Linked DNA regions of Homo sapiens. The protein of the gene in region 1 purifies or fractionates together with the protein of each later gene. This does not show direct contact. Each region holds a gene or a part of one and is shown in the gene's direction. Other genes may lie near its edges.

Region 1 (3,832 bases):
GTTTGTTTTTTTTTTTTTTTGAGATGGAGTTCACTCTGTTGCCCAGGCTGAAGTGCAGTGGCACAATCTCAGTTCACCACAACTGCTGCCTCCCGGGTTCAAGCGATTCTCCTGCCTCAGCCTTCCTAGTATCTGAGACTACAGGCGCACGACACCATGCCTGGCTAATTTTTGTATTTTTAGTAGAGACAGGGTTTCACTATGTTGGCCAGGCTGGTCTTGAACTCTTGACCTTGTGATCCACCCACCTCGGCCTCCCAAAGTTCGGGGATTACAGGTGTGAGCCACTGTGCCCGGTCAATTATTTTTTCTTATAGCTATTAGTGGTGTTTTTGTTTTTTGAGACACAGTCTCGCTCTGTTGCCCAGGCTGGAGGGCAGTGGTGCAATCTCGGCTCACTGCAACCTCTGCCTCCCGAGTTCAAGTGAGTCTTCCGCCTCAGCCTCCCGAGTAGCTGGGACTACAGGCGCGCGCCACCATGCCTAGCTAATTTTTGTATTATTAGTAGAGATGGGGTTTCACCATATTGGCCAGGCTGCTCTCAAACTCCTGACCTCGTGATCCTCCTGCCTTGGCTTCCCAAAGTGCTGGGATTATAGGTGTGAGCCACCGCCCCTGGCTGTTAGTGGTATTTTAAAAAATTATGTCTAGGCATCTATAATAAGGCTGTATGTATTGGATTGCTGTGAAGAGTCAATGAATTAATAAATGCAAAGTACCTCAAACTGTTATCACATAATACAGGTTTAGTAAAAGTTTTCCACTATTATCAGTGATATACTCATTATCATAAGTATCTTCATTAGGATTTATGGAAAGGATTTTAACCATGTTGTTTACCTTTGGCAAATTTGTAATTCATGGTGGAAAAAGAGAAACACTTGTAATGAGTATAACGAAGCCTTTCCCTATCATTATTATTCAGTGTGGAATTTTAAAAGGAAGAGAAAAAGTATGTGTGCATAGTCTTTGTTCAGACTTTATCTTTTATGCTACATAAAGAATACCAGTCTGAGGCTGGGCGCGGTGGCTCACACCTGTAATCCTAGCACTTTGGGAGGCCAAGGTGGGTGGATCACTTGAGGTCAGGAGCTCGAGACCAGCCTGGCCAACATGGTGAAACCCCGTCTCTACTAAAAATACAAAAAAAACAAAAACAAAAACAAATAGCCAGGCATGGTGTTGCATGCCTGTAATCCTAGCTACTCAAGAGGCTGAGGTGGGAGGATTGCTTGAACCTGGGAGTTGGAGGTTATAGTGAGCTGAGATTGCACCACTGCACACTCCAGACTGGGTGACAGAGCGAGACTCTGTCTTACAAAATAAAAAATAAACGGTTACCAATCTGAAACCCTGAAAATATGATGAGTAGTAGAAAGCACAGCTGTCAAAAAAGCAGGAAGAGATTATAAAATTTTTTCTAATATTTCCCCCCAAAATGCAGAAAACATACTGGCAACATTATTTGACCAGAAGAAGCAGTACAATAGGATAACCATCAAATATCTGATTATTAATTCAATATTCCCTCTTAATTAACATGGGTTAAGGAATAAATCCCTAATATATACATTATTTAAATGTACATGAAAATGAAAACAATTGAAAAACCTGTGAGTGGCAGTAAAAGTTGTATTGGAAGTTTTATAACCTAATATTTGTGCATATATTGTAATACTAGGAAGAAAAAATATAGAACCCAAGGAACTAAAACAAGCTGAAATGAATTGTGGGAGGAAGGAGGTAGTATTATTTTAAAAGGCAGAAATAATTGAAAGAAAAAAACTGGATCTGAATCCAAAATTGATATTTGATGGAAGAGAAAAAAAATGAGACAAAGTTTAGTGATTCCAGAGGTGAAATAAGGATGACAAATAAACAATATTGTATATGAGAAATTGAAATGGCTATATATGTAAACTTAAAAGAACTGTGTCATTTGGGGTAATGAAAATGTGGCATGGGTAAAGGTTGTACAATTTTGTTTATATACTACAGGTCACTCAACTATACACTTTAAAAGGGTGAATATTATGCTGTGTGAATTTGATCTCAATTTAAAAACTTAAGGCTGGTTGCAGTGGCTCATGCCTGTAATTCCAGCACTTTGGGAGGCTGAGGTAGGAGAATGGCTTGAGGCCAGGAGTTCAAGACCAGTCTAGGTAACATAATGAGATCCCCCTCCCCTCATCTCTACAGAAAAAAAAAAAAATTAAAACAACAAACTTAAAAGTTGGTATTATAGACATTTTTATAATATATCTGAAAATCTGGAAAAAGTCTGTGATTTTTAATAAGTTGACGACATCAGAATTAACTGGAGGTGTAAAATCTTAATAGACCTCCCTCCAGAATAAACTTATTTAAAAAAATAAGACTGGCCAGGCATGGTGGCTCACGCCTGTAATCTCAGCATTCTGTGAGGCCAAGGCGGGTGGATCACCTGAGGTCGGGGATTTGAGACCAGCCTGACCAACATGGAGAAACCCTGTCTCTACTAAAAATACAAAAAATTAGCCGGGCGTGGTGGCTCATGCCTGTAATCCCGGCTACTCAGGAGGCTGAGGCAGGAGAAAGGCTTGAACCCGGGAGGCAGAGATTGCGGTGAGCGGGGATCATGCCATTGCACTCCAGCCTGGGCAACAAGAGTGAAACTCTCTCAAAAATAAATAAGTGAAATAAAATTTTTCTTAAAATATATTTTAAATGTCAAATTGCTACACTAAAAAAGACACCAAGGTAGAGATTTTTATAGGTGAAATCTATGAAATGTCTTAGGAAACTCTTCTAGGACATAGACTGAGATAGCAAATTATCTATTTTTAAAATTTGTCATAATCCTGATGTTACAACCTACTAGAACCCAAAACAATTTGTCCAGAATCAGTTATGAAAATACAGCATTATAAATTAGCAAATCAAATCTAGTAACCCATTGAAAATAAATATTTGTCACATTCTGAATTTAGGAAAAAACAATTCTGATAAATCAAACTTTCTACTTTCTGAAACTTGAAAATCAAATTGATTTAGATAAGATTGTATTTCTTAGTGTCTGAACTCAGGAACCAAATAGATGTGGATAGCATGGGATTTTTGGAATACAAGATAAGATAATTTACATGGGATTGCAAAAGTTCAAATAACTAAAGTTCTGTCAATGAAAATATATGCTCTAACCTCAACATCTTCTAGATGAACCCTTTTTTCTAGCAGTATTTGACAGGATGGGATATATTTTATAAATAAACTTGGACTATTATCCTATCTGCTGCAGTATCACTGTTCATTCATTTATGCCCTTTACTTCCTACTTGAAGGGTCTTTAAACATAGCCAACATATCCAATCATTGCTGTGCATTTTGGATGAGGGTGGATTGCGGGGCTGCATTCAAAGCCATCCTGGGCCACATGCAGCCTATGGAGCGTGGGTTGGATGAGCTTGATGTACCACGTTTTCTTTATCCAGTCTACCATTGATGGGCACCTGGGTTGATTCCCCATCATTGCTATTGTGAATAGTGCTGCGATCAACATACAAGTGCATTTGTCTTTTTGGTAGAATGATTTCTTTTCTTTTGGGTAGATACACAGTAATGGGATTGCTGGGTCAAATGGTAGCTCTGTTTTAAGTTCTCTGAGAAATCTCCAGGCTGCTTTTCACACTGGCTGGACTATTTTATGCTCTCACCAACAGTGTATAAGCATTCTCTTTTCTCCGCAGCCTCACCAGCATCAGTTGTTTTTTGACTTTTTGTTTGAGACAGAGTCTCGCTGTGTCACCCAGGCTGGAGTACAGTGGCATGATCTTGGCTAACTGCAACCTCCGCC
Region 2 (3,832 bases), on another chromosome or scaffold:
TTTTATATGAAATAAATTTAAAACATATGTTTATGCTATTCTATTGTAAAATGTGTTAGGCCATTGCACTAGACCACCAGATCATAAGTGGGATAACTGCTTTTAGAGAATGCCTAGAATTTGAGGCCCCACATATGAAAGTTTGACATAAACCTTCATTAATTTTAACTTTAGTAAAGTTAAAATTCGCTTTACTAAAATTTAGTTAACTTTACTAAAGTTAAAATTATAGTTAAGGTTAATTTGAATAAGGAATGAACAAAACTATGAATAAAGCATTTTTACAATTGATAGAATGTTGGGAGAACATTAAGCATCTTGAGAGCAAAGCAGTCTTTTAAAAAGGACTATTTCATACATAAAACATTGATGTTGATAGCAAATATGTTCATTCAATAAAGTTATTTACTGAATGGTGTTTTGTTACCTTCAGGAATGAACTTATAAGTGACAAATCTTTTACTTCTCTGCAATATTTGATAATTTATATTGTTCTCTAGAATAGAGTGACTACCTCTGATAAACCTACTTAAGTGAAAGAATTTTCTTTGTATTAGCAATCTCCACGTGAGGTTTAAAATTTTTTCAGTCTGTAGCATATTTATATTGTTTTTGAGTCTGTGTATACATGTGTATCTGTGTGTATGCTGCTTTTCCCTAGTGTGTTTGTGTATGTTGCTTTTCCCTAGACATTTTGTATACATGACGTATTGGACTGTTGTTGTTGCCTAGCATGAAGAACAATATTAACCTTTGAGGTGCTTTTTAAATATTTCAATATGTTTGTGTTCTTTCATTCTTGGAAAATTATTAGAATCTCAATATAAAGAGTAGAAAATTAAACTAATAAAAATATGTACTTTCAACTCTCCATACATTCTAATAGTATTTTTTCTTTCATGCAAATCTAAATTTTTTTTTTCCATTTTCTAGACTAAATGTGTTAAATGGGCTTGCCAACAATATGGATGATTTGAAGATAAACACCGATATTACTGGTGCTAAAGAAGAACTCCTAGATGACAACAATTTTATCTCAGACAAAGAGAGCGGAGTTCATAAGCCAAAAGATTGTCAAACATCATTTCAGAAAAATAATACGTTGACTCTGCCTGAAGAACTGTCAAAGGACAAATCTGAAAACGCCTTAAGTGGAGGCCAGTCTAGTCTATTTATACATGCTGGTGCTCCTACTGTTTCTAGTGAAAACTTTATCTTGCCTAAAGGAGCTGCTGTTAATGGACCAGTTTCACACTCCTCCTTAACTAAGACTTCCAATATGAATAAAGGCAGTGTTTCATTAACCACTGGACAGCCTGTGGATCAGCCAACAACAGAATCTTGTTCAACTTTGAAGGTAGCAGCTGATCTTCAGCTGTCTACACCACAGAAAGCAAGTCAACACCAAGTTTTATTTTTGTTATCAGATGTAGCACATGCTAAGAATCCCACCCATTCCAATAAAAAACTACCTACCTCTGCTTCAGTTGGTTGTGACATTCAGAATTCAGTAGGGAGTAATATAAAGTCAGATGGCACTTTAATAAATCAAGTAGAGGTGGGTGAGGATGGTGAAGATTTATTGGTGAAAGATGATTGTGTCAATACAGTAACGGGAATTTCCTCAGGTACAGATGGATTTAGGTCAGAAAATGATACAAACTGGGATCCCCAAAAAGAGTTCATTCAATTTCTTATGACTAATGAGGAAACAGTAGATAAAGCTCCACCTCATTCTAAAATAGGTCTAGAAAAAAAAAGAAAGCGAAAAATGGATGTAAGCAAGATAACTCGTTATACCGAGGATTGCTTTAGTGATTCTAATTGTGTACCCAATAAATCAAAAATGCAAGAAGTAGACTTTCTAGAACAAAATGAAGAGCTACAAGCAGTAGACTCACAGAAATATGCATTATCAAAAGTGAAGCCTGAATCAACTGATGAAGACTTAGAATCTGTGGATGCCTTCCAACATCTAATTTATAACCCAGATAAGTGTGGAGAAGAGAGTTCACCTGTTCATACTAGCACTTTTCTTTCAAATACCTTAAAAAAGAAATGTGAAGAGAGTGATTCTGAGTCACCTGCTACTTTCAGTACCGAAGAGCCATCATTCTACCCCTGTACAAAGTGCAATGTGAATTTTAGGGAGAAGAAGCACCTCCACAGGCATATGATGTATCATTTAGATGGGAATAGTCACTTTCGCCATCTTAATGTCCCAAGGCCATATGCTTGTAGAGAATGTGGACGGACATTTCGAGATCGCAATTCACTTCTAAAACATATGATTATTCACCAGGAGAGAAGACAGAAGTTGATGGAGGAAATTCGTGAATTGAAAGAACTTCAGGATGAAGGAAGAAGTGCACGATTACAGTGTCCTCAGTGTGTGTTTGGTACCAATTGCCCTAAAACATTTGTGCAACATGCTAAAACCCATGAAAAAGATAAAAGGTACTACTGCTGTGAAGAGTGTAACTTCATGGCAGTGACAGAAAATGAATTGGAATGCCATCGAGGCATTGCACATGGGGCAGTGGTAAAATGCCCTATGGTCACTTCTGATATTGCCCAGAGAAAAACACAAAAAAAGACTTTCATGAAAGACTCTGTAGTAGGATCATCCAAAAAATCAGCTACCTACATATGTAAGATGTGTCCTTTTACTACTTCAGCCAAAAGTGTTTTAAAAAAGCACACGGAGTACTTGCATTCATCATCATGTGTTGATTCATTTGGTAGTCCTCTTGGACTTGATAAAAGAAAAAATGACATCCTTGAAGAACCTGTAGATAGTGATAGCACTAAAACATTAACTAAACAACAGTCAACCACATTTCCAAAGAACTCTGCTTTAAAACAAGATGTGAAGCGAACATTTGGATCAACCTCACAATCAAGTAGTTTTTCAAAAATTCATAAGCGGCCACACAGAATACAGAAAGCTCGGAAAAGCATTGCCCAATCAGGTGTAAACATGTGCAATCAAAACAGCTCTCCTCATAAGAATGTTACAATTAAAAGCAGCGTTGACCAAAAACCTAAGTATTTCCATCAAGCAGCAAAAGAAAAGTCTAATGCCAAGGCAAATAGCCACTATTTGTATAGACACAAATATGAAAACTATAGGATGATCAAAAAATCAGGTGAATCATATCCTGTGCATTTCAAAAAAGAAGAAGCTAGTTCATTAAATTCTTTACACCTGTTTTCATCATCAAGTAATTCTCACAACAATTTTATTTCAGACCCTCATAAGCCTGACGCCAAAAGGCCTGAAAGCTTCAAAGATCACAGACGTGTAGCTGTAAAGAGAGTAATTAAGGAATCTAAGAAGGAAAGTTCTGTTGGAGGGGAAGACTTGGATAGCTATCCAGATTTTTTGCATAAAATGACTGTTGTCGTTTTGCAAAAACTTAATTCTGCTGAAAAGAAAGATAGTTATGAAACAGAAGATGAAAGTTCCTGGGATAATGTTGAGTTAGGAGACTACACTACACAGGCCATAGAAGATGAAACCTATAGTGATATTAATCAAGAGCATGTAAATTTATTCCCTTTATTTAAGAGCAAAGTGGAAGGTCAGGAGCCTGGAGAAAATGCTACTCTTAGTTATGACCAAAACGATGGCTTTTATTTTGAATACTATGAAGATACTGGAAGTAACAACTTTTTGCATGAGATACATGATCCTCAGCATTTAGAAACTGCAGATGCTTCATTGTCAAAGCATAGTTCTGTTTTTCATTGGACTGATTTGTCTCTTGAGAAGAAATCGTGTCCTTACTGCCCAGCAACATTTGAAACAGGTGTTGGGTTATCAAATCAT

The links.
Region 2: the proteins of ZNF383 (region 1) and ZNF644 purify together in Homo sapiens (affinity purification with mass spectrometry; one large-scale study listed by BioGRID and IntAct). This does not show direct contact.

Annotation. Positions count from the first base shown.
Region 1 is NC_000019.10:37,245,474-37,249,305, forward strand, and holds the end of ZNF383 (zinc finger protein 383), read left to right. Parts: 3' UTR 1-3,267; downstream 3,268-3,832.
Region 2 is NC_000001.11:90,938,411-90,942,242, reverse strand, and holds part of ZNF644 (zinc finger protein 644), read left to right. Parts: intron 1-933; coding exon 934-3,832.